Linked DNA regions of Homo sapiens. The protein of the gene in region 3 interacts with the protein of the main gene of each other region in a biochemical or structural test. Each region holds a gene or a part of one and is shown on either strand. Other genes may lie near its edges.

Region 1 (7,467 bases), on a different chromosome or scaffold from region 3:
ATTCTATTATGGCACATGCTGTTCTAAGGATCTGTCAGGATTTCCTTTATACACTCCATTTTGAGTGGTATATAAATCAGATGTAAAAATTCATGTTGGACTGAAATTCAGCACAAAATGCCTCCTCCAGAGGCAAATGCTTTTTTCAAAATGTGGTTCGAATTATGTTGGTCATTTTTAAGTTACAGAAGTGCAGAAAATGTATTTGTGGTTTTGAGGGAGAGAGATTTTTTCCATTTTTATAACTCATTAGGAAACTTTACAGGCCTTCAGACCATTTTGTGGTTTAGTTCTTCTCAGGTTTTTCCCCAAAGCAATATTAAAACTTGAATGGTGTCCGCTGTGAATCCAATGATTACTGTTCTGAATACAAATGTATGTGTGGATACATATAGTTCTACATATCTTCAACTAGGAGAAGTTCCAAAAATATTATGACCAAGGTAGAAGATGAGGCCTATCAGTTGGCTAGTCTTTGCCTTGGTATCAGTCAAGTTTGGCATATCAAAGGAATCAAAGGAATCCCCTATCCAAACCACAGTTCAGCAGGTATTGCTTGAATTTTAAAACTGCATTAAATTGCAGAAAAATCCGCTGAGTTCAACACTGCCTCTTTTATGAGCTTTTAGACAATAATGCTGCGCCTTTTCTAAATTTTGGTTTCTCTAACATATAGAGCAAGTTGCAGTGTGTTTAACAGATATTCACTAATGCTTATCTCATTTCTAAAGTATTTAATATGTATATATTATGCATATAAATTAGTTTGCTAAATAATGTTGAACTTATTTTGTTAGTGTAGCTAATGTGTTAGAGTAATTTCATAAACATCTAAATTATTATTTTAGCCTATGTAGAGATTATTATACTCTCTTTCCTAACAGCATCAGTTAAAATCAAAGAAAGTTTGATTTAGACCAAGAAAGTTGGCCTAATTCACAAAGTTGATTAAGCCAATATTTCAGATGACTTTAAAGGAAAATGAAAATAAACATAATATATATGTTTGAATTGCTTCCATCTATACTGCATTTAGTTTATTAATACATTGGAACAATGCATTTAGTAGTTATTATTTATCGTTTAAAGCACAATTTTTAAAAAAATTTCCCAATATCGTATCTTATGCTTTGTATTAAATTCCCCTTAGAGAATTAAATCTGGGTGTCTTGATTCCAAAACAGTTCCCTTTCCTATTTCCTATATTTCCTATTTCCTACATTACACTATTTCTGGTACAGTTACCAAAATCCTTGGGTTTAGGGACAGTTAAGATGGACCACTCAGAGGATGATCAAACATTTGCCTGTGGCTGGAGCAATGTAGACTTTCCCTCTGGGATACTGAGGAGCAGAAGGGGTCTCACTTCTCCTGAATGTTTTCTCTACTTACCTAGTGTCACAGAAATTAGCCAGCTATGTACTATCGAGACAGCTGAATGCCAGTTTTTCTTATTTTTCACATTAACAAGAGAGTAAGGTTACTAATGAGGGGTCACATCCCAAATCTCTAATCTATATAGCTGAATATCCCTATTTATATTTGGGTCATTTTTTGTTCTGCTCCATTGACTTTTACTAAATTATACTAATTTGTGTTCCATAATGTTATTCTTGGTTATAATTAATGAAATTTTGTGTGTAACTCATATATCACTGATATACTTATGTCTTTCTGTTAATCATTAAGGTCATTTCTTTTATAATTTAAATTAACATGTATCACTTCAAACATCCCTGTATAACTCAAAACAGTTATGAAGAAGTTCTTTGCAGCTTTTGGGAGAAGTTTACAAATTTCTGAGAACTAGATACATATTGAAATATAGTTTTATGTTAATCAAAACTGTTTCAAAGGAAAGCATAGACATTTAAAAACGACTGAAAATAAAAGTACTTTAAATGTCAAAGTAAATAATTTTATATGTGAATAATCTAGATTTCATGGTTTGAGCAGGAATAATTTATAACTCATTAGGCAAGTAATATACACAGTGCACTTCTCTCCCAACCTATTGCATTACAGCCATATTTTTTCTCACATTTGTAGAAAGGGTTACACAGTGCTATTATTTGAATAGCTTTGACCTTGTTAAAGCCTGGCACCATTGTTTTTTACATAGCAAGCAGTATATTTTTAAATAGAGTCACTTTCTTACAACACATGAAATAAAGAATGACATAAAAACTTTAAGATTGTGAATAATAAAATATGTAAGATATATCCTCACCTTGATTTTACCTTTAAGCAGCCTTTTATTTGTCTGTTAGGAACTTCTTTCCATGGTTTTACAGGCTCCGGCTCTTGTTCTTTCTTTTGACAAATGAATGTATAATTTGTGCCATTATTATTTGACCAAAATGTACCAACAGAAGTTTCATAACGTATACAAAACTCAACTTTACTGCCATCTTTTTGATAAGGAGGAACCAATACAATCTTAAAGGAGAACTGGTCAGTTTCACCATCACATGAATTAGGAACATATTCTGCTAAAATGTCATAATGTGTCTGCCAGTCATCTAAAGACATTCTTACATATACTAACTTCTCAAAAGAAACATTCAAAACTCGAATAATACCCTTGATACTTGTAGACCCAAGAAGAGACTCAGTTGACTCCAGTATTGCTTTCTGTATTTGGAGTTGTTGCATAAGATCTTCTTTTGAAGAAGGCAAGTCAAACAGTGGGGCTAAAACATATTCTTCTGTGTGGAAAATGTCCGTCCCTAAGTCAAAAGTGGTTGAAGCACTCGGTAATTCCCAGCAATCAAATTCTTTAACAGACACAAGATTGAATCCAAAGGAATCAGCAAATGAAACTCTTCTAGTACCTGAAGATGGGGTATCCAGGTATATGTCTTCAGAAGAATCAGAACCTCGTCTACTTGGTTGAGGGGAGAAACCAGGTTGGAAAGTAACTTCTTCATCTTCACAAAGAGAGTCAGATAAATTAGGAACTTCTAAAAAATTATCTTTGCTAATCTGACTAGGTACTTCAGAAGGCTCCATTGGGCTCTCTGATATCAAATAAGAGAGAACTGTACGACTAGTAGAGGCTGACATTTGAGATACTGAGGCTTAAAATAGGTATAATGTTACAGTTGACATTGCAAAAAGAACTCAGCTCTATAAATAGGTCCAATGGCGTGTCAACTATGCTAGCCTGCAACCCTGCTAGCCTCCCCCTAAAGGCCTTGCATATGATAGCATCCATGCTACTCCCACCAGTATGTTTCAGATTTAACTGGCAGTTTTTAAAGCTGTATTTGTTTATGAGCTAAGTTCCAAACAGATATTTTTAAATCATGTTCTGCTGTATTGGAAATCCTGGAACTTTAGGATAAAAATATTATTTTAATTAGTTGATGTTAAAAATGAAAATGTGGATTTTTTTTAAATAAAATAAAAGTAGTATCACAATACTGAATATGTAGTTTGGACTAAATTAATCCATGGAGCAGGTAAGTGCAAACAGGGAAAGATAAGAACATTTATAGAACTGAAGAGATCCAGAGCCTACTAATAATGACAGCTATCATTTTCAGGGATTTATAAATGTATAGCTTTATTACAAAAGGGTTAAATAGAGGTGCTGAAAGTTCTGAGGAAGGAAACATGATTCAGATGGGGAAGGTATCATTTTAAATAAAGCATGAAGGGTAGGTGGAATTTAGACATGCAAGGTTGGAGCAAGGCAGATTGTCCAGGTAGAAGAAATAACCCAAGCAAAAGCCTAGAACAAAGAAGTAATCAAATTCATTATTTTAAACATTAGTACATTTATTTTAATTAAGCCATGGGAAAATACAGATAAGACATGTTATTGATTTACAAATATAAGTGGGCAAAGGTAAGCCTGATCCAGGACTAATACATCTACGTAGAATAAAATGTTCTTTTGCAAATGGCCATTTTATGCCCACAAAGCAGAAGTTGATACCATCACACCTTGAAATTCAATATGAGTTTTAAAGTATGAACAGCCTGCTTAAACTGTCACGTTTTTTTTATGTCATAAAACCCAAGTTGGGGGATGGTCATTTTGGTAAAAACCTATAAAAATTTAACTGCACACAATTTGACCGAGAAATGCCCCAGCTAGAAATTTGCTCTGTCAGTATGGGAAAGTATACAAAGATAAATAGAGATCTATGTTCATAACAGAATTGTGCGTTTAACAGTCTCTACAAACCTGTTAAATGTCCCTCTCGAAAGAGCATTGGATAAATAACCCATACAATAGAATGTTTTAGAAGGATAAAGTAGCACTTTATGTGCTAATATGGAAAGATAACCAAGATAAATGGCTAAGTGATAAAAAAGAAAATGTGTACAGATATGTACATAGAAAACTCCTGAAAGGATACAAAAGACAATGTTAGCAGTATTTACTTCTAACCACAGAATTTAAAGATGGCAGAGGAATGGGGGCTCTATTCATTTTACTTTATGGTCTGCTGTACTGTTTGAAATATTATACATGAGCATGGTTTTCTTTCAAAATATCTATTAATTAAACTGAAAAAATATACGAAGTGTGAAAGGTGATTAGTTTTTCTTTTTATAAAGAGCCCAATAGCATAATTTCTTTCAAATGAAAACCTCATTAATATGGTATAACTTATTAGGTAATTTGAATTGCATAAAGTAGTGGATGGAGAAATTATTTTCTAAAATTATAAGTGACTAGTGTCTAGAAGGATAAAGAAATGAAATTATTTGAGCTTTATCTCATCCACATAGCTAGAATGGGTGGTGACCACATGGATTGCTCAAGAATGGGTAATGGCTGCGGAAATGTCTGTGCCTTTCAGATTTGATGACTACAAGTAGCTATATTTCAAGGTACCTGAAATACATTGCTATGTAGTCAAGGAAATCAGCAACAAAATGCTTTATGGAAATTAGTAAAATAGTTCATATAGCCATGTAAATAATGGGATAATGAAAATTTAAGATATAATAATGTACTGAAATATTTTAACTATCCAGGAGTTAGTTAGCAAAGGAATGGAAATGAAGACCCCTGGGTCCATTTCCTGGCTCTGCTGCTTACTAGCTGGATGACCTTCCGAATGTTACTCAGATGTTCTAACCCACAGTTGCCTTAATTGTCAAAGTACAATGTTTAAAATTAAACAAGATTCTTGTTAAATGTCTAGCACAAAACCTATAGTAATAGCACCAGTCACTATTTCAATTCCGATATATGTTTGTAAAAGGCTGATTTCTAAGGTATATCAACAGATAGATGGATAGATATGTAATCTATCTAGCTACAGAGAATTCATATATATCATTAAGAAATGATTTGTAATTTGTTTCATTTTTGTCTTTTTCAAAGGCTATAGTGTGTAACACTTAGCTTTATAAGACATAATATAGCTCTACATTAGAAAATGGTCCTGTTATTTGATCTAAACTTTTCCCTTGTTAATGTGTCTCTTTACACAGAGCACTACCTTGATTTGTAGTAATCACTGCCTTTCTTTTGGAATTTATAACCTTCACATAATTGTAGACAGTTGACATGTTCCCCCTTAGTCACCACTTAGCTAAAGCAGAGTGATTTCATCTTTTTAATCTCTTCCCACATGTCAATCCTCCAGTGCTTTTTACCATTTTGTTACTCCTCTATGAACTCCTTCCAGCTTGCCTGTATTTTTCTGTTAATGAGCTGCCCCCAGATGAATGCAATATTATAGATCAAGTGTCTCTGGAGCATGAAAAGAAATACTAACAGCCTCAGCCTTGTGACTTGGTGTTTGCATTCAGTTAAAATTCACATTTCCTTGCTTTATTTCCATATCACAGATCAGACCAATGTCCCATTTTCTCATATCCACCACTACCTCAATTTCAACACAATTTATCACACTCTTCTTCAGCTGCTAAGGTATACTGTTTTTAGAAGAATTAAAGCTTTTTCTTTCCTTCTTTTTTTTTTTTTTTTTTTTTTTTACAAACTAAAGCTCAAGTCTCCATGCATTCCATAATTTTTGGTATTAATCAAATATTCTCAAAGGCACCATTAACATAAAAAACAGTATCAGTCAGGAACCCAGTAAATAGGAAATAGATGGCATGCTCAAATAAGATAATTTCAGGAGGATTTATTTACAAGGGTCTATTTATAAAGTGTAAAGGCAGAGAAGCCACAAGAACTAGTGTGACAAACTGGGGTCAATTGCATCAGAGCTTTTACCATCCTTCAAGGGATAAGGGAAGGGAACACTTATCAGAACTTGAAAGCAAAGCGTGCCATAAAGAGCTTACCAACTGGAGACCTGGTCAAAGGACACAGCCAGTTGAAGACGACTTTGCCAGGAGTGATCCGGGAGCATAATAAACTGAATTCATTCTTCTCCCTTTTTATGATGTCCTACCAGAGCTACCTATTGGCCAGAGGGCATGGGAACTATTATAGTTCATTCAGGTCAGTCTCCCGCAGCAGAAAACAGGGAGGAAAATGGTGGAAAGGGTGGCAAGTGGATTTGGAGGAGCAAACAGAAGATATGAGGTATGAAATATATGCAAATATGTATATAACATATATACATATATAACTTAAAATACATATGTGTGTTCCTCTTTATTTATACATACTGTATCTCAATGCCAACTGAGTTTCTATTACCTGATCTTCTACTGTCATGGGTTCAAGAAAAAAAGTTAAATATCTAAGGTCTGATCAGCTCTGATCCAGTGAGAATCAAAAATAAGAGAGATTGTGTTTATCCACAAATGGGTAGGAAAGAAATGATCTATTTTGAAATTAATTATGATTTTGCATTTGTTTCCCATGTTAGCATAGATTTTTGCAACCCAAAGAAACGTTTTGTCAAGAGACAGTCTAGAACTGTAGTCTTTAAAACCAGAGATAGATGTCAAAAATCACTGGGAGAGATGTTCAAATAAGATTTTCCAAGAGGATGATGGTTCACAAGTGATTCTGATATATAGACTTGGTTAAGATGCGTGATCTCCGGCTGGGCGCAATGGCTCATGCCTGTAATCCCAGCACTTTGGGAGGCCAAGGCGGGTGGATCACAAGGTCAAGAGATCGAGACCATCCTGGCCAACATGGTGAAACCCCGTCTGTACCAAAAATACAAAAATTAGCTGGGCATGGTGGTGTGCACCTGTAGTCCCAGCTACTCGGGAGGCTGAGGCAGGAGAATTGCTTGAATCCAGGAGGCGGATGTTGCAGTGAGCCGAGATTGAGCCATTGCCCTCCAGCCTGGAGACAAAGTGAAACTAGGTGTCAAAAAAAAAAAAAAATGCATGATCTCCTAGTCTGTCTGCCATAGTCAGGGACTTAAGTTCTAGTTATGAAAACAATTGTAGCTATTATCCCTCTACATATGTACTATGTGCTATTTTTAGTGTGTGTGGGGGCTATAAAATGCTTTTACAAAAAAAAAAACAAGAATTGGGTAGAACTTTAAGGTCATTTAGCAATCA
Region 2 (3,616 bases), on a different chromosome or scaffold from region 3:
ACAAAATTAGCTGGGCGTAGTGGCGCATGCCTGTAATCCCAGCTACTCGGAGGCTAAGGCAGAGGAATTGCCTGAACCCAGGAGACAGAGTTTGCGGTGAGCCAAAATCGTGCCATTGCACTCCAGCCTAGGCAACAAGAGCGAAACTCATCTCAAAAAAAAAAAAAGCTCAGCCTCAAAAGAAATCCAAATTAAATCCAAGTAAAATGTGTGTTCACCCATGCAATGGGATATTTCACCATGGTTTCGACAGTATTTTTTCTAATTTATGTTGTCCCCAAACTATGCTTTTTGTTTAAATGTCTAGAAGTCATACTTAATATGTAGATAATTATGGTTGTCACATAAAAAAAGGCATTGTCCGTTTAACATCATATTATCTTGTATTTTTTAGAGCTTTCTTTTAATTCATCCCGCAAACAATGAGTGCCAGGTAAATGCAGGGCACTGTGCCAGGTGCTGGGAGGACGTGTTGAATGAACAGCCATCACACAACTATGTATTTCTTAGTGCTTTTGATTTTAATTCTTTTGGCATATCTAAATGTCAGAAAGTGAATATATACATACAGAATTCAAAACACCTTCCTAAAATGGTTATTATTGGCCAGTCATTTACATCTTTATTTTGAAAGTCTGAATTGTCAAATAGTTCTAAAGTGCATTCTTGCAGCTAATAAATAGCAGCATTTGTTTATAAAACCTTAAGAAATTCAGACCAGGGCTGGAGAAGTCACAATAAAAAATCAGACATGATCTAGATATAGTCTTCCTTAATCATCTAAGACAAACACTTGTGTGAATTAGTTTATAAGTATACATGAAATATATTTTAAAAAAACATTATAAAAAATTCATACAGTGATGAAAAAAGGAGTCTTCCTCTGCTATTAATATTAAATATGGCAAAACATATACTATACAAGGTTTGTTGAATACTAGTTGTCTTTGGAACCATAGGGAAAGCTTTGCTCTGGGTCAGTGTATGATGTAGCTGAGGTCCGTGATTTTCAACAAAGCTGGAGTTCTACAAGATGACCTGGAAGACTGCTTCTGGCATGGCTTTCGAGAAATCATCCACACAAATGAAAATGTTCTTTCAGTACTGGGACTGTCAGTTCATGGCTTTTTGCGCCTAAAACATAACAACCAGCACTTAGAGTTGAACTTTGCAATTAGTAACACATTCATAGCAAATCAATCTTTAGGAGGCCTTTGAGAACTGCTGTTTTATGATGAGATAATTCAAGTCCCTCTGAGAAAGCAAACAACTTTTATAAAATATGCTTATCTTAGTATTAAATTTAGAAAGGATTTCCCATCTTTATCCTGCTGCAACAATTTTCTAAATTGCTCAGTAAGGTATGTAAATGTTTAAAATGTTATATACATATAACATTTTATATACATATATGTATATAACATGTGATATACATATATGTATGTATTTGTAAAGAAGGGATTTTATTAAAATATGGAAAAAGACTGGGTCAGACTCCTGAGTATAAGTTTAACAGAAGAAGAAAAGGTATGATTCCTTCCCTACTATAAATTCTTTCATTCAGTGTTATTTATTTTAGTGAACACCTATTGCTACACCAAGACCAAGAAGCAAGTCAGGAAACAATGATTTACACAAAGCTGTCTAGTCTCCAACTTAAGCCTTTAGCCTTCCCTCCTTAGAGGTACTCTCAGTTCAGCCTCAGAAAGCTTTATGAGCGTTGGCAGAATATGAACATGAGCCACCAATCTTCCACCACCGCCTGCCTTGCAGCTCTGATTGCTCTTATCCAGCCTTCTGAGGCTCTCAGCATTCCAGCTGCCTACTGCAGTCTGCCCATGGAGGCCCAGATAGTCCAAGGGGAAAACCAAAACCATATATTTCTTCTGAAGAATAAGTGGATGGCTGGTAGAAGGAGTGATAATGTAAAGACCAGAGGAGGAAAAAAGCACACAGCAAGACCCCAATTACAGTCAGTACTCACTTGGGTTGTGCGTGATGCTGATATCCAGGTCCCAGCTGGGATCCTGCTCTCATCTCCACAGCCACAGAACACTGAGAGGAAAATGACAAGAGGAAAAAGATCAGCTCCTCTCAATAGTCTATAAAACACAGTTATTTAGCAGGCTCCACACCTAGGTGAAATGCAATATTGCTTTCTAGTTCAGCAAAGACTCTTACGTTAAAACACCAGTCACTCGTAATTTATTTCTGGCACAGGCCACAAATGTTGTGAGCCAGAAAGGTCTTTAGGTCATCCAGGTAACTTATCTCATTTTAGATAAGTTTGCAAAGAGAGTTGGTGGCTAAGGCCATAGCTTAGCCTCCTGACCCCTACCTTCCCATGTTCTTTCCAAGAGATTCTCCTCAGGAATAACACTTGCAAGGGAGTTCCTGATGAAGTGGATTCTTGTTATTCTAGGAATAGGCCTACATGGTGCACTGGCAATGTGAGATTATACCTCAGCATTTTCAAAGAGCATAAAAATCTAGAGCTGTGGGGTTTAAAACATGACAAACCTAATTTTAGTAGGCAGACAAATATTTAATTTTTCCCCTACCCTTGTTTCTACATCGGTCCATTCAGACTCTGCACCATCTGGTTGGGCAGGTGCTACTGTGGAAGATCTTCGTTTTCGACTACTGAAAAAGGGGAAACATGATGCAACAATTATTTTTCCATCTAAGAAGAGGAAAAATATTAGAAGTAGGGGAATACTATCTACATCCCTTTGGAGAATTAATGATACATTTCACAGGCTATTCTGTTCCTCCAAAATGAGCAGCTAAGAAAATGACCAACTTTTATACAGAGATTTTTGATGGTTACTTACCCATTTGGTGATTCTTGCTTTAAAGTCTCAATATCAGTAAACTGAACAGATTGTCCACCACCCCTTGTTTTATAAATATCACCCTAAAGCCAAAAGAAAAGGTCACTGTTACACATTGATACACCCAAACGAAAAACACACATATATATTTCAAACTGTTCTCATGATTCTATTTTATAGAAATTCCCATCCACAAAATCAGATGGTACTTGGTACTTGCTGAGTACGTACTATCAAAATAATTTAGAAATTTGAGTACATATCTCTCACAAATAAAAGAAGTCCAATTCAATGTAATCAGTAACATTCATAATTGCAGAAAAAAATATTCCTTTTGCTCCATCTGTAATTTAAAAACTAAACTGCACTAAGGATCAAGAAATTTGCTGGAAGTTTCTACACGCTCTAAGGCATGGTACTTTCTTCTCTGAGTGCCCCCTGTTGCCCATATTCAAATGACAGTATAGTCTTATTTGTAGCTAATTATAATAAGAACAAAAACTCTAAATTGAAATTGAAATAAAAAGCTTTTTTTTTTTTTGGTCTTATCTTTTACTTTCCTGATTATTCACTGACCCTATGATCAAAGGGGAATTCTTCTATAGTCAGGCAAGTCTCTTTCTGGAAAACGGCTTTAGGCAGCTCAATACTGAGTAATTTTGACGGGTCAAATTTTAACATAGGTTTCGTTTTGTTTTGTTTTTGTTTTTTTATCTTGAACTGATGGAGAGCAATAGGAATTCTTTGCTTAGATTACTTTAAGTAGTGGTTAAAACTAAATA
Region 3 (7,039 bases):
GTTTTTCCACTTTAATTCTTCCCGTATATTGATGAAAAACTAATTTTCTTACACTATTTCCATTAAATTACTTCCCTGTACAAAAACCCAATACGGTTATTAAATCACTCAACAAACTCCGTTGCTCAATAGTCAAATCTCCATAATCTGATTCCATCATTTCCCAGCATGTACTTGACCTTCTAGTCAGGCCAGTTCTTACACATTCCCTAAACTAGACAACAAAGAGTGTCTCAAGTCCTTTTAACTTCTCCAAAGCCTATTTATCCTCTAAAACCCATGCCTCCATACACACATGTACCCAGTCTTTCCTCCTCCTGACTTCTCATAGTGTCTTAATAAGTTCTGACATATTAAATACCTTTTATTACTCAATTATCTGTTTCATAAATGTATCTTAGCAACAGGTTTTTAACTCTTCAAGATGGTCAGATCATACACTATCTACTAGCTAGGTGTTAGACATATACATTAATTTTTCAAATAAACTTTCAAAAAACTTCAAGCTTATTTCATAAGCCATACAGAGTAACCTACCAATCTGCCAAAGATTATTTTATTATTTTATTGTTAATACTAAAGCAAATATATTATATGAAGCCTAGAATTCTTGATATATGTGAATATGAAACTCAATTTTATTTGGATTCTGATGAAAGATTTCAATATAGGCAGGAAGATATCCTCTCATTTTTACTAATAAATAGCAGGGGTGTCTTTCTGTTAAAACTTGAGGCAAAGGAGACTTTCTCAAACAACTCTAGTTACACTCCTTATATGTGAAACTGTATTTAAAGAAGCATTACGTTTTCATTTATAAATAAATTTCTAATTTTTAAAAGAGGTTTAGCCATGTTTAAAACAGTTTTAATCACTTGAGTTTTCATACAAGCACTGCTTTGTTTTCCCACAGCCTCTTGATTATTATAGGTATTTTCCGAATAATAGAAGAAAAAAAAAATCTGTAAGGCAAATTTACTAGTCTACCTCCATGACAACAGAAGATCTTCTCATCCACAATGGCTGCTATAGGCAGACAGTTAAAACAATCAGTGAAGGTCTTCCACAATTTAATATTAAATCTTCGTTTGCCTGTAAAAAGAACAGATAGAATAAATTAAAAAATCTAAAACTGTTCTCATCAGTTATCTCAAAGCCGCAGGATTATGAATGATTTCAATTTTCTTCATTTCTTCATGTTTATCTATAAAGAAGAACTTTTTCTACAATGCAAAGATGTTATTTACGTACTTTCAAAAAGGCAACAACTACAATAAACATTCAATACCTTCAGTAAAGTTACCAAGACTTCAAAGATTGTGCTGGGGGTAGGGGTGGGATGGGAAGATGTTGGTCAAAGAATACAAAGTATCAGTTGGGTAGTAGGAATAAATACAGAAGATCGATTGTATAACAGTGACTACAGTTAACACTATATTGTATCTTTGTAAAATGCTAAGAGTAAATTTTAAGTGTTGTTTTCTCCCAAAATGCTAACTTTTTGAGGTAATGCATATGTTAAATCAGCGGGATTTAACCATTCTGCAATGTATATATACTTCAAAACATCATGTTGTACATCATAAATACATAGAATTTCTGACAAATAAAATAAACCTAATCAAATTTAACACTTAAAAAATCCCAAAGATTGTGCTAGGTGTTTTATGAAATACATCAAACAATTTTTGTCTTTTAAGATCAGTATAATATAGCAATTTTTAAACAGTCTAATAGGCTCTTAGTTCATTTTTTTCCGTTCAGTGTGTGGACTAGTTAAATACCTAGCCAAATAAGCAAGCAGAAGTGAAAAGGTGCCTCTGGAAACTGTCCATTTTAACACTAATGCATTGATTAACACAGTATAAACTTATTGCCAAGGAAGGAAAATTTCCAAGTGTTTAACTAGTATTCTTTTGTGTGAATTACAACTTGGCACTATAGCAAGTATAAATAGAGGCACAAAGGCTATAATTTTCCTGTAGCCTAGCATAAAAAGCTACGACAAAGACAACCTCAAGTGTATGTTCACCTTTTTAGAGTTACTCGATTTTCCTGAATTTGGTAATAAGGTACAACTACTAAGCTAGGGAAGGGATGAAAGACACAAGTACTAACTTCCTGTGCTTTTATGCCACAACCTGCCCCTTAATGAGTAAGTACATAACTCAAAGCACTGTTTACAAGTTGCTCTCCCATACATTATTTCATTTGATGTCATTTCTATCCCCAAAGACATTCTTGCCTATCTTTTATCCTTTAAAAATATACCTCCATTTCTGATGTAGCTTTAGGAAGAATGTTGTAGTTTGATGTACTCCAACCCACTTTCTCTCTGCTAGTCTGATTTAAATAATTCAAACCACACACTACATCTCAGAAATAAAAATACAATACAAAATCAAATACAGAATCATTTCTATTAGAATGTAAGCTCATGGCTGGGCGCCGTGGCTCACACCTGTAATCCCAGCACTCTGGGAGGCCGAGGCGGGTGGATCACCTGAGGTTGGGAGTTCAAGACCAGCCTGATCAACACAGAGAAACCCCATCTCTACTACTAAATATACAAAATTAGCCAGGGAACGTGGTACATGCCTGTAATCCCAGCTAATCGGGAGGCTGAGGCAGGAGAATCGCTTGAACCCGGGAGGCGGAGGTTGCAGTGAGCTGAGATCGTGCCATTGCACTCCAGCCTGGGCAAGAAGAGCGAGACTCCGTCTCAAAAAAAAAAAAAAAAAAAAAGAAAGAAAAGAAAAGAAAAAAGAAAAAAGAAAGGCTATTTTCATTAAGCATTGGAAGCCTGATACAGCCTTTTTTCACTACAAGGACATACAGTCCCAGCTAGGCTGATGACCTGCTATTTGGCTGGACAGGGAAGGCCAATCAATGCTGGAGAAACACTTGGGAAAAAAAATGTAAGCTCCATGAGAACAGAGATCATCTGTATTGTGTATTGCTTCACGCACTGTGTTCACAATAGTGCCTGCACATATAACATACCCTCAAACTTTGTCAAATCATTATATAAATCAAGGAGATATGAGTTTGAATAGGTCTCTAACATAATTAAGGATTGAAAAAAAGCAAAAGTAGATTCTAATAGGGAAGACAGCAATAAAAAATTCAATTTGAAGATTATAATTGATTCTAAGTAGTAATTAACCAAATAAATACTTACTCCCGTATTCTAATAAAACCAAAAGACCATATTTGAACCTAGTAGGGTATTTTAATAATAACACTTGGAAACATACAATACCAAATCGTTGATTTCCTACTAATGAAAAAGAGAGTAAAATAAGGATACCCCAGAGTATTCAGTATCTTTATCTTTCAAGGTTTACAGACATAGATTTAAATTCTAATAATATTAAACTTTGACTTTTAAATAGTTTCACAGAACTTCTCAATAATTCTTGTGACACAGGACTAATAAAAGCTGTCATACCACAAGAATGCCGAGAGTTAAAACCTTAATGGACACTAGAAAACCAAGGGCCACTGCCTACAGTGACTTCTGTTTCACCTGGATAGTTTACTAGATAAACTAATTTTAAAAGAGCCTCTTCAGCCAAGTAAGCTGCAGTCAATCTGAAATATGACCAAGGAGATCTCAAGGAACCAATTTAATTAGTAACATGTTTCCCAGTTTCAGGTTCCTCTTCCTGGCCTATGCCTGACAGATCTTATTTTGAAAAAACTCTGAATCAAAGCAACTCTTCTGAACCAGAAAATTATTAGGCAATGTTTCCATGAATTACTTTTCTAAGTCTTTATTTTCACTTACATTCATCATAGAATCCATAAATGCGATTGATGCTAGCACACTCATGGTTTCCTCTTAAGAGAAAGAAGTTCTCTGGATATTTGATTTTATAAGCCAATAGCAAACAAATGGTTTCCAAAGACTGCTTTCCTCTGTCCACATAATCTCCTAAGAAAAGATAGTTGGCTTCTGGTGGGAAACCTCCATATTCAAATAATCTCAGTAAATCTGTATATTGTCCATGAATATCTCCTAAAAAGAGAAAGAGTCAGTTTTAGAAAAATTGGTTACTGTTATAAGCAGCTTCTATGAAATGATTCCCAATGTTCACATCCTGTGTAATCCTCCCCTACCCTTGAGTATGGGCTATATTTGGTGACTTACTTCTAATAAGCGAAAGTGAGATGGGCTGTCACTTCCAAGATTAAGTTACAAAAGACTGTGACTTTCATCTTGCTTGCACTCTCTCACCTTCTTCCATGCTCGCTGATGAAACCAGCTGTCTAATGAAGCATCCCACGTAGCAAAGAACTGAGGGAGGCCTCTGACCAACAGCTCATTTGGAACTGAGGCTCTTAGTCCATCAGTCTATAAGGAACTGAATCCTTTCACAGTTCAACCTTCAGATGACTGCAGCCCGAGATCACGCCTTAATTGGAGCCTTGTGAGAGACCCAGAGCCAGAGGACCCACTAAGCTGTTCCTGAATTCCTGACCCACAGAAATTGTGAGATGGTAAATTAATGTTGCTGTAAGCCACAAAGTTTTGGAATGATTTATTATACAACAATAGGTAACTAAAACAATTTTATTATCTGGTAGTTTAACTTACGTCACTTTTTAACACCAAATATGGAGACAAATAGTAAACCTTTAGAAATATGTAGTACAAATAACTTCCATTACCTTCAAGTTATTTCTATATTACATTTTAAAGAACACCTTCAAAGAATACTTTAATTCTAATAATTTTAAGATCACCTCTAAGTAACTACATTTGCTTAAGTTTATACAGGGGATTGATTAGTTCCCCCAAATTCTGAACTACTACCTCTTACTTGAAGGTGTGATATTCTAAGTTAACTGATCCATTCAACAAACATTTATTGGCCAGCTGCGGTGGCTCATGCCTATAATCCCAGCATTTTGGGAGGCCAAGACAGGTGGATCACCTGAGGTCAGGAATTCAGAACCAGCCTGGCCAACATGGAGAAACCCTGTCTCTACTAAAAATACAAAAAGTCAGCTAGACGTGGTGGCTCACACCTGTAATCCCAGCTACTCAGGAGTCTGAGGCAGGAGAACCACTTGAGCCCGGGAGGTGGAGGTTGCAGTGAGCCAAGATTGTGCCATTGTACTCCAGCCTGGGCAACAAGAGTGAAACTCTGTCTCAAAGAAAAACCAACCAAACAAACAAAAAACAAACATTTACTTAGCGAGTATCTCTTATTTGCTGGGCACTGTACAAAGGACTGTAAAAAAGTCACTGTAAAACTTAAAAGAATACAAGGTATAAAGTAGTATAATCTTCAAAACAAATTTAAATAACATCAAAGTTAGAAGACCACAGATATCGCCATATTGACCCTCTAAATTATACACCTATTTTTTTCTAACCAGTGTACTATGATGCCCTTTTCGTGACATCCTTGACAACACTAAACATCAATCTTTGGTATTTTTTTATAATCTGACTAGAGTTGGAGACTTGCTTTAAATTGCACATCACTGATTACTAAAAAAAGAAGCTGACGTCCTTATGTTTACTGGCCATTTGAATTTCTTCTAAGACCTTCCTCTTCCTATGTTATTTTTATACTGTATCGCCTTTCTCTTATTTATAAGAACTCTTTATATATTATAAATAGAACTCCTTTTATCTGTTGATATATAGCAAGTATTTTCATCTTGTCTGTAACTTGTCATTTTTATAAGTTTCAATTTTTATACACTTTTATTTAGTAAAGCCTACTGATCTGTTTTATACAAAAATTTCAAAAAATGTTTTCTCTAGATCTTAAACATGGGAGGAAAAACATGATTCAAAAGAGTTGTTTCCAACTTTACCCATTTACATACCACAAATTTTCAGCGGTGCTTCCAATTCCAAAAGAATAGGCTGGCTGAGAAAGATCTCCCGAGACTTGATACATAAGCCTCGAACTTCTGCTTCAGTCATCTGCACAATCTTTCCTGGACGACATCCTCGTACTGACAAACGATAAATAAAACAGTCAGTTTTCTAAAATTTACTCATAATAATCTTTCAAAAAGAGTCATGCCCATACTTTAAAAATCAGAAAAGTCACACAGGCAGCAAATTACCCTATTTGGTCCCATGGTTTAAAATAATGTTATTCTATGATCTCTGACTTCTATTTTCATTGTTACTGGTTCCTGATGATGCTCCTCAAGTCTGCTGTTGATGAAATGCAGTCCTGTTTTTTGCTGTCCTGTGACCAACCTGGGGCCTAGTAGCCAAAGAGACTTAAAAGATTTCAGGGCCGGGCACGGTGGCTCATGCCTGTAATCCCAGCACCTTGGGAGGTTGAGGTGGGTGGATCACCTGAGGTCGGGAGTTCAAAACCAGCTTGATCAACATGGAGAAACCCCATCTCTCCAAAAATACAAAATTAGCCAGGTGTGGTGGCGCATGCCTGTAATCCCAGCTAATTGGGAGGCTGAGTTAGGAGAATCGCTTGAACCCGGGGGCAGAGGTTGCAGTGAGCTGAGATCGCCCCATTGCACTCCAGCCTGGGCAACAAGAGCGAGACTCCGTCTCAAATAAAAAAAAAACAAACAAACAGAAAAAAAACAACAACAAAAAAAACACACACAAAAAAACATTTCAGAGCCCGCACCCTTTAAGGTCTGGCCTGCTTATCTCGCATCTAGTAGGATGTCAAAACAGCCTCATTAAGAACAATGTGCTATGAAGAAAGGGAGATTAAATAGTAATTGTCAGTAGGTGATTTAGCTTCACACACTTTCTTGGAATGTTACCAGCAGTCCCCAAAATTTTAGCAACTCCTATCTCTACTTTCTGATCAAAAGAAATACAAAAAAGATATCAGCTATGTATTAAAAATTAACTTATCGTTACATTCCCAATAGATCATTATATTAAAACCTCTAAAGGCTATTTAGATGGAGTGAGGCATCTTTGCATTACTGAGCCATAAGATAATATGGTTTCCAGTAACTTGTGGGATGAAGGGGAACAGAATGTTGCATGGAGAGACAGAAGAGTTCCTTATTTGCCCCACTGAAC
Region 4 (7,039 bases), on a different chromosome or scaffold from region 3:
AGAAAAAAAAACTCTCAACACTGAGGATATTTTAAAAAAATGTTCTGGAGCTGAAACTCCAACAGAAAAGCTCTAGAAGTGTTCCATGCAAGAATATAAATATTCAAATAAGTTTATAACCATCTAAAACAATTTTGAAGGCTAATAAAATATATATAATTTGGGATGTTTATTACAAGTAAAGGTTGAGTGCATACGTGTACGTGTGTGTGTGTGTGTGTGTAACAGTCCATGAAAATATACTTTCCCACATGGTTATTAATCTTTAAGAGGGTGCCAAGTGACATCTCACAAAATGTATTCTCCTCTGCACTATGCAGTATTCAAGAAAATGACATGAGCTTTGTACAATCTTATGATTTTATTGTTAGAGGTCATGTTAAACTAAGAAAATAGTAATTTCAGCTCAAATGTGAGTTAAATCATCAAGTTAAAGTAAAGCTTTTTATTAAGTGAAGCTCTCTCTGCAGAATATCTCACTTAATATACATAACATTTAAATAGACTACTAAAAAAGTGACAGCTGAGGAATGCTTTCACTTCTTTCCATGGTTTCTACTGAATGTCATTTCAGAAATGCCTATACAACACATGACAATGTGGAATGTCTCCTCCCATGAAAGAGCATTTGAGTTGAGCAGCAAGCACACTTAGGGCAGTAACACAGAACTCAAGCGTGTCTTTTTATGGTTAGCCAGCATAACAATGCAAAGATAAACAACCAAAACACTAATAAGGTCAGAAAATACTGACATAGAGGGAGCCATAGTAAAAATGTTATTTGGAAAAAAAAAGTATCAGTAAAATAACAGAAAATATGCATTATTTCTAATATTACCATGCTAGAGATTTCTTTTCTTTTTCTTTCTTTTCTTTTCTCTTTATTGGTAGAGACACCGTCTCCCTATATTGCCCAGGCTGGTCTTGAACTTCTGGGATCAAGTCTCTTGCCTTGGCTTCTCAAAGTGCTGGGATTACAGGTGTGAGCCACTGCATCCAGCCTAGAGATTACTTTTCTAAATGAACACTCAAGGATTTGTTTAAAGAATTTTTAAACTAAGTTACATAAACTGAAGCGTCTATTGATAATCAGTAATAGATCTCATTTCAAAAATAAATCTAACATCCCAATAATTTTTTTCTTTAAGACAGAATCTCGCTCTGTCGCCCAGGCTGGAGTGAAGAGGCATGATCTCAGTTCACTCCAACCTCTGCCTCTTGGGTTCAGGCGATTCTCGTGCCTCAGCCTCCTGAGTAGCTGGGATTACAGGCATGCGCCACCATGCCTGGCTAATTTTTATTTTGTATTTTTAGTAGAGATGGGGTTTTGCCATGTTGGCCAGGTTGATCTCAAATTCCTGAGCTCAGGTGATCCGCCTGCCTAGGCCTCCCAAAGTGCTAGGACTACAGGCGTGAGCCACCATACCCAGCCACCTAATAAATGTTTTGATTGTAATAATGGCTACCTTTACATTGTAAGTATTATAAAAGTAAGTGGTTGATATAAGCTTTTTTATTAGGACATTTTAAAAGTTTGTCAGTGTGTTACACTTACCCAATTATTTAATATTCTATGAATTCTGCTCTTCAAAATATTAGTTTACATTGTGTCCAATTTTTTTTAATCATTAAATATTTATTGTGTACCTACTAAAACAAAATGCCGATACAAAAGGAGATTTAAAGAAAAAAAGAATCAAAGTCCCTACCTTAAGGGTATATAAGGGACTTCTTCCCCCCCACCCCCAGTATCCATGGTATGAAGTTTCCTACAATTTGTCTCTAAAAAGAATCAAATATGTACATGTACGTATGTATAAAAAATTTACTGTAAATGATTAAAAAAAACTAAAACAGGCTAAGTGCAGTGGCTCACGCCTGTAATCCCAGCACTTTGGGAGGCTGAGGTGGGAGGATCACTTGGGCCCAGAAGTTTGAGACTAGCTTGGGCAACACGGGGAGACTCTGTCAAAGAAAAAAAAAAATTAGCTGGAAGTGGTGGCACATGCCTGTATTCCCAGCTGATCGGGAGGCTGAGGTGGGAGGATCACTTGAGCCCAGGAAGGCTACAGTGAACTATGTTCATGCCACTGCACTCCAGCCATGGTGACAGAGTCTGTCACCCTGTCTCAAAACACACATACACACACCACACCCACACACACACCCAACAACTGAAACGATATAAATTGCTATTAGGGTAAAGAAAAATAAAGGTAGTTAAAAATTAAATTCTATGTCCTGAAAAAAGGAGTGTTTCTTGTTGCTGCTGATATATTCTGCACATAATGGTAAGTCAAAAATAATCTTGGCACTTCCTAAAATTTAGGACAATTTCGAATTCTGAGATTAATTTAGATACAGTACTACTGCACTTCAATTACCATAGAAAGGTCTTAAAAGTATGGGCTAGCTAAAACAAATGTGGATGAAGAAAAAAATTATATGTGTGTTTCACTTGATTTTCAGCTAATTTACAGAGAAACCTCCAATTACTAAACACCACCATAATGATGAAAAGATTTAAGAATATTTTCTTCTTCAGACTTCAAAGAAGATACCTGGCATAGGGTAAAGTTTGAGTTTCGGCATCAAACAGACCTGCATAAGAATTCCAGCTCTGCCATTTATTTTCTTGTTAACTTTGAGCAAGTGAAAAAGCATGTTGTGAAAATTAAACTATTGTTTGGAAAAGCACTGCTCCTCAATAAAACACTGATTAAGTCATGGCTACTACATATCTGACTCCAACTGAGAATAAACTTATAATTGTTGGAGTTCTTCAACCTTTCAAAGAGGTATACCAAAATGCCAATACCTCATCATCTTCTCAACCTTATTGTGGAGCCCCACAAACTTTCAAAAGAAGGGTGGAGTAAAAGATGGCAATTTTTTGCAGGCAGAGGCAATGAAAATAGCAACTTCATATAGTGTCAAGAAGTAACATGTTATGGTAGTAACAAAACAACGTTTTATGCCTCCCCCTATTAAAAGGTTTTTAAATAGTTTTCTTTTAAAAATCATCTAATAAGATTTTTAAAACACTTTTCTTATGTGAACTGTAATTTTTAAATGTGGTAATAACAAATGGATGATGAAAAACACTTCCTCTATTCCATCCAGTGTTTCTACCTGGCTATAGAAAATGCTCAGTCACAGCTTGCAATCATACTGTAGCTGAGGCACATGAAAGATGGTCTTGGTTATGACACCTCAAAGTCAGACCACAAAAGTGTTGCCAGGAAGCACAGAGGCAGCAACTACAGAAAAAGCATTAGAACAGCAGCAGTGTGGGCACTGGTGCCCTACCAGCACACCCCATATATGGCTAGGGTTGCCCACTTATTTGTAGGAAGTGAGGGGCCAGTTTGGGGTTGGGAGGGTTTTATTTGTTTGTTTAGGTAGGTTTTTAAAAATGGATTTAGGATGATTTCAATAAAAACTTTTGAAAGGCATGAGCATAAAGTGTTACAGCTTTTCTAAAAAGAAAACTATGCAGAGAAATATTTTACACTGCACATTCTTTTAGACACAAATTTTAATGCTCTTTAAAAGTTATCCAGTAGGTTCTTCCAAGATCTTAACATTCTCCATCAAAAAAAGGGTAAACAGTTACAAACTATAAACTCTTAATTCAGATTTTACATAGTAATCAAACTATTTGCTAACAAGCAACTCAAAATTAATTGCTTCCAGTCTCTTTTACACTTCACATCTTAAGAAGACTACACAAAAGTATTCCCTTTACTGACGAGAGGATCACATATTTTACAAAGATGCTTAAAATGGCTCCCTTAGAAGTAGATCAAATTTGTATTTTAAAAGCAAAAGGATTTCATATTAAACCTATCTGTAAGTCTGTCTGTTTTGGAAAGTAAAAGAAAAACTATTTTAAAATTCTAATAGCATAGAACATGGAACTAATTCTACTTTGTATTCCTCTAGAAGTGGTACCCAACCTTGGCATCAGGAACTAGTTTTGTGAATGACAATTTTTCCACAGATGTGGGTTGGGGAGTGGGGCCGGATGAAACTGTTCTACCTCACATCATCATCAGGAATTAGATGCTCATAAAGAGCACACAACCTAGATACCTCAGAAGCGCAGTTCACAATAGGGTCCGCACTCCTATGGGAATCTAATGCCGCTGCTGATCTGACAAGAGGTGGATTTCAGGCAGTAATGCTAGCTTGCCAGTGTGTCGCTCACCTCCTGCTGTGTGGCCTTGTTCCTCACAGGTCGTGGATCGACCTGTCCACGGCCCAGCGTTTGTGAACCCCCGCTCTAGAGGATCTAGCTCAGACTCTTACAAAGTGAGTAATTAATTAGTGACTCAACTGGATATAATATTTTTCTACCACTTAACCAATATCTAGACTGCTTTAAAATTTAATAGAAAGGAGGTCGATATTAAGAATTTTTTAGGCCGGCCACAGTGGCTCACACCTGTAATCCTAGCACTTTGGGAGGCCAAGACGGGCGGATCACTTGAGGTCAGGAGTTCGAAATGAGCCTGGCCAACATGGTGAAACCCCATCTCTACCAAAAATACAAAAAAAATTAGCCAGGCATGGTGCCACGCACCCGTAATCCCAGCTACTTGGGAGGCTGTGGCAGGAGAATCACTTGAACCTGGGCGGCGGAGTTTGCAGTAAGCCAAGATTACACCACTGCACTCCAGCCTGGGTGACAGAATGAGACTCCATCTCAAAAAAAAAAAAAGATTTTTTTAAAATCTCAAGATATTAAAATATATTGAAATCTACAACAAAGTTTTTAATTTGTTTCATAATCACACAAATTCCATTATGTGCAAGAACAATACGCTAAGTATCTGATGCGAAGGTTTCAAAAATATATCTCACAACATAAAAATAACTCTAAAACTTCCTATTGATGAGGTAAAAAGATAAAAATTCAATAAACCTTTAGTGAGCATCTACTATGTGCTAGGCTCTGGAAATACAAAAATTGTGGAAGATTAGGTCCTCAGAGGCTACAAGGGAAGACAAACACAAACACTATTCAGTAAAAAGTGTTTTTATTGCAGGAGAGGCAGAATATAAGGTACAGTGAACACCCCAGAAAAGAGAATGTGAATCTTGAACAATGACTAGAATTTTAATTGGCAAACGAGGGAGAGAGGATAAAAGGCATGGCTAAAGGCATGGAAATAAAAAATGTAAAGATCTAGTTGAAACGTAAGCAAGTTAACCAATTTCTATAAAGGATACAACACAATGGAGATGTATCAACCATAAGCTAAATGATAAAATGTACTATATCCAAATTTAGAGAGAGGAATAACACCATCAAAATGATACTGTTCAAAGATTAATATGACAGCAATATGCATGCTAGATTAAATAAGGGAGAGAATAGAGGCAGGAAAAACAATTAAGCTATTACTATACTCTAGGGATAAAAATAAGGCTAGGTGCGGTGGCTCACGCCTGTAATCCCAGCACTTTGGGAGGCCGAGGCAGGTGGATCACCTGAGGTCAGGAGTTCGAGACCAGTCTGATCAACATAGAGAAACCGCATCTCTACTAAAAATACAAAATTAGCTGGGCATGGTGGCACACGTCTGTAATCCCAGCTACTTGGGAAGCTGAGCCAGGAGAATCGCTCGAATCCGGGAGGTGGAGGTTTCAGTGAGCCAAGATAGCGCCATTGCACTCCAGCCTGGGCAACAAGAGCAAAACTCCATCTCAAAAAAATAAAATAAAATAAAATAATAAAGGTATGAACTAGGTTGCCAGTAAAAAGTGGCAAAGAAAAGAACTGATGCCAAGGTAATTGTAAAGAAAAGACTGAGCTAGAAGACAGACTGGATTATGCATAGACAAGGGGAATGAGTAAACAATAACTAAAATGTTTAACTTGATTCTAAAGATTAATACATCATTAACAGAAACAGGAACATCAATGAGAAGAGTAGACTTGATGAAGAAAGATAGACCTGTTTTAGGTTGAATTTAAAGAAATTCCTGACGATGTAAAATTGTCTTACCACCAAATTAATAATACTTTTAAAATAATTAGTTAAAAAGGATGCTGGTAAAGTCTAAAGATAAGTATCTCTAATGTTAACGGATAAACGTAAAATTATAATACTGAATTGCAACTATGAAAATCTATATTTGAACAATAAGAAATCCTTTGAAGAAATCACAAAGGTTAACGTGAATACAGTAGTTGCCATTCTATGGCAAAGGGGGTGAACTTGTATTTACTATATTACTACTTAAAAGACATTATTAAATATAAAATTACAATACATTTAATATTTCATTTCAAATCAATACATAACCCCAAAAAATGGAAATGAGGCTTGGAGCTTTGCAGAAATGAGGGAACTGTAAACTGACTTGGAAGTCACTGGCACAGAGGAAAAAGAAAAGATTTTAAGGCTAAAATCAACAGGCTAAACTCAAAACTGCTGGAGAAAAATCTCAGCCCTGTATTTTATGCACACCAGTATCAGTAAGAATCAGCAATAAGGCATTCTATATATAACTTTATTAATCTCCTTAAATCTTTACAAAATATGCTAAAATAGAGATATAATCACATACTGTAAAACTCTACCAGGTAGCTATAAAATCAGAAGCTGATTATTGCCCCATTGGTAATAATGAAATTCTACTCTAGACCTCGGTTCTAGAAAAACCAGAAATTTGTATCTATGGTTAACTTTGTGCTGTTTTGTAGCTTTGGGGGTCAGGTCCTGGGTAGAGTGGGTGGGGGAGAAAGGCTACTCTGGAGACTAAGATAGGAAATTTGACAAGAAACGCTGCTTTTTCTTCTATACAGAGGACACATTTCTATACAAAAAGAACAGCTGAAGACTGGATATCTTTTATAACTTCTAATGAGGTAGCACATTCAACAAATTAATAAACCTTTAAATATAAGCTCTTTAAAGTAAAAGCAAAATATTCGATTTTCAAAAGCATATTTGTGGGTTGTGATGTTCCTAAAACTTTTCTCTTGACAATGAAATTTAGAACACTTGATCAAAACCAGAAAGTAAAT

What was found.
Region 1: the proteins of PPP1CB (region 3) and PPP1R3A form a complex in vitro, tested with the Homo sapiens proteins (one study listed by BioGRID).
Region 2: the proteins of PPP1CB (region 3) and KIF23 form a complex in vitro, tested with the Homo sapiens proteins (one study listed by BioGRID).
Region 4: the proteins of PPP1CB (region 3) and PPP1R12A form a complex in vitro, tested with the Homo sapiens proteins (one study listed by BioGRID).

The regions. Positions count from the first base shown.
Region 1 is NC_000007.14:113,915,985-113,923,451, forward strand, and holds the start of PPP1R3A (protein phosphatase 1 regulatory subunit 3A), read right to left. Parts: upstream 3,026-7,467; 5' UTR 3,013-3,025; coding exon 2,231-3,012; intron 1-2,230. UniProt on the Homo sapiens protein: Seems to act as a glycogen-targeting subunit for PP1. PP1 is essential for cell division, and participates in the regulation of glycogen metabolism, muscle contractility and protein synthesis.
Region 2 is NC_000015.10:69,445,310-69,448,925, reverse strand, and holds the end of KIF23 (kinesin-like protein KIF23), read right to left. Parts: intron 2,918-3,616; coding exon 2,835-2,917; intron 2,644-2,834; coding exon 2,562-2,643; intron 2,056-2,561; coding exon 1,985-2,055; intron 1,135-1,984; coding exon 1,119-1,134; 3' UTR 501-1,118; downstream 1-500.
Region 3 is NC_000002.12:28,775,791-28,782,829, reverse strand, and holds part of PPP1CB (serine/threonine-protein phosphatase PP1-beta catalytic subunit), read right to left. Parts: intron 5,980-7,039; coding exon 5,848-5,979; intron 4,022-5,847; coding exon 3,791-4,021; intron 1,093-3,790; coding exon 988-1,092; intron 1-987. UniProt on the Homo sapiens protein: Protein phosphatase that associates with over 200 regulatory proteins to form highly specific holoenzymes which dephosphorylate hundreds of biological targets.
Region 4 is NC_000012.12:79,925,059-79,932,097, forward strand, and holds part of PPP1R12A (protein phosphatase 1 regulatory subunit 12A), read right to left. Parts: intron 1-7,039. UniProt on the Homo sapiens protein: Key regulator of protein phosphatase 1C (PPP1C). Mediates binding to myosin. As part of the PPP1C complex, involved in dephosphorylation of PLK1. Capable of inhibiting HIF1AN-dependent suppression of HIF1A activity.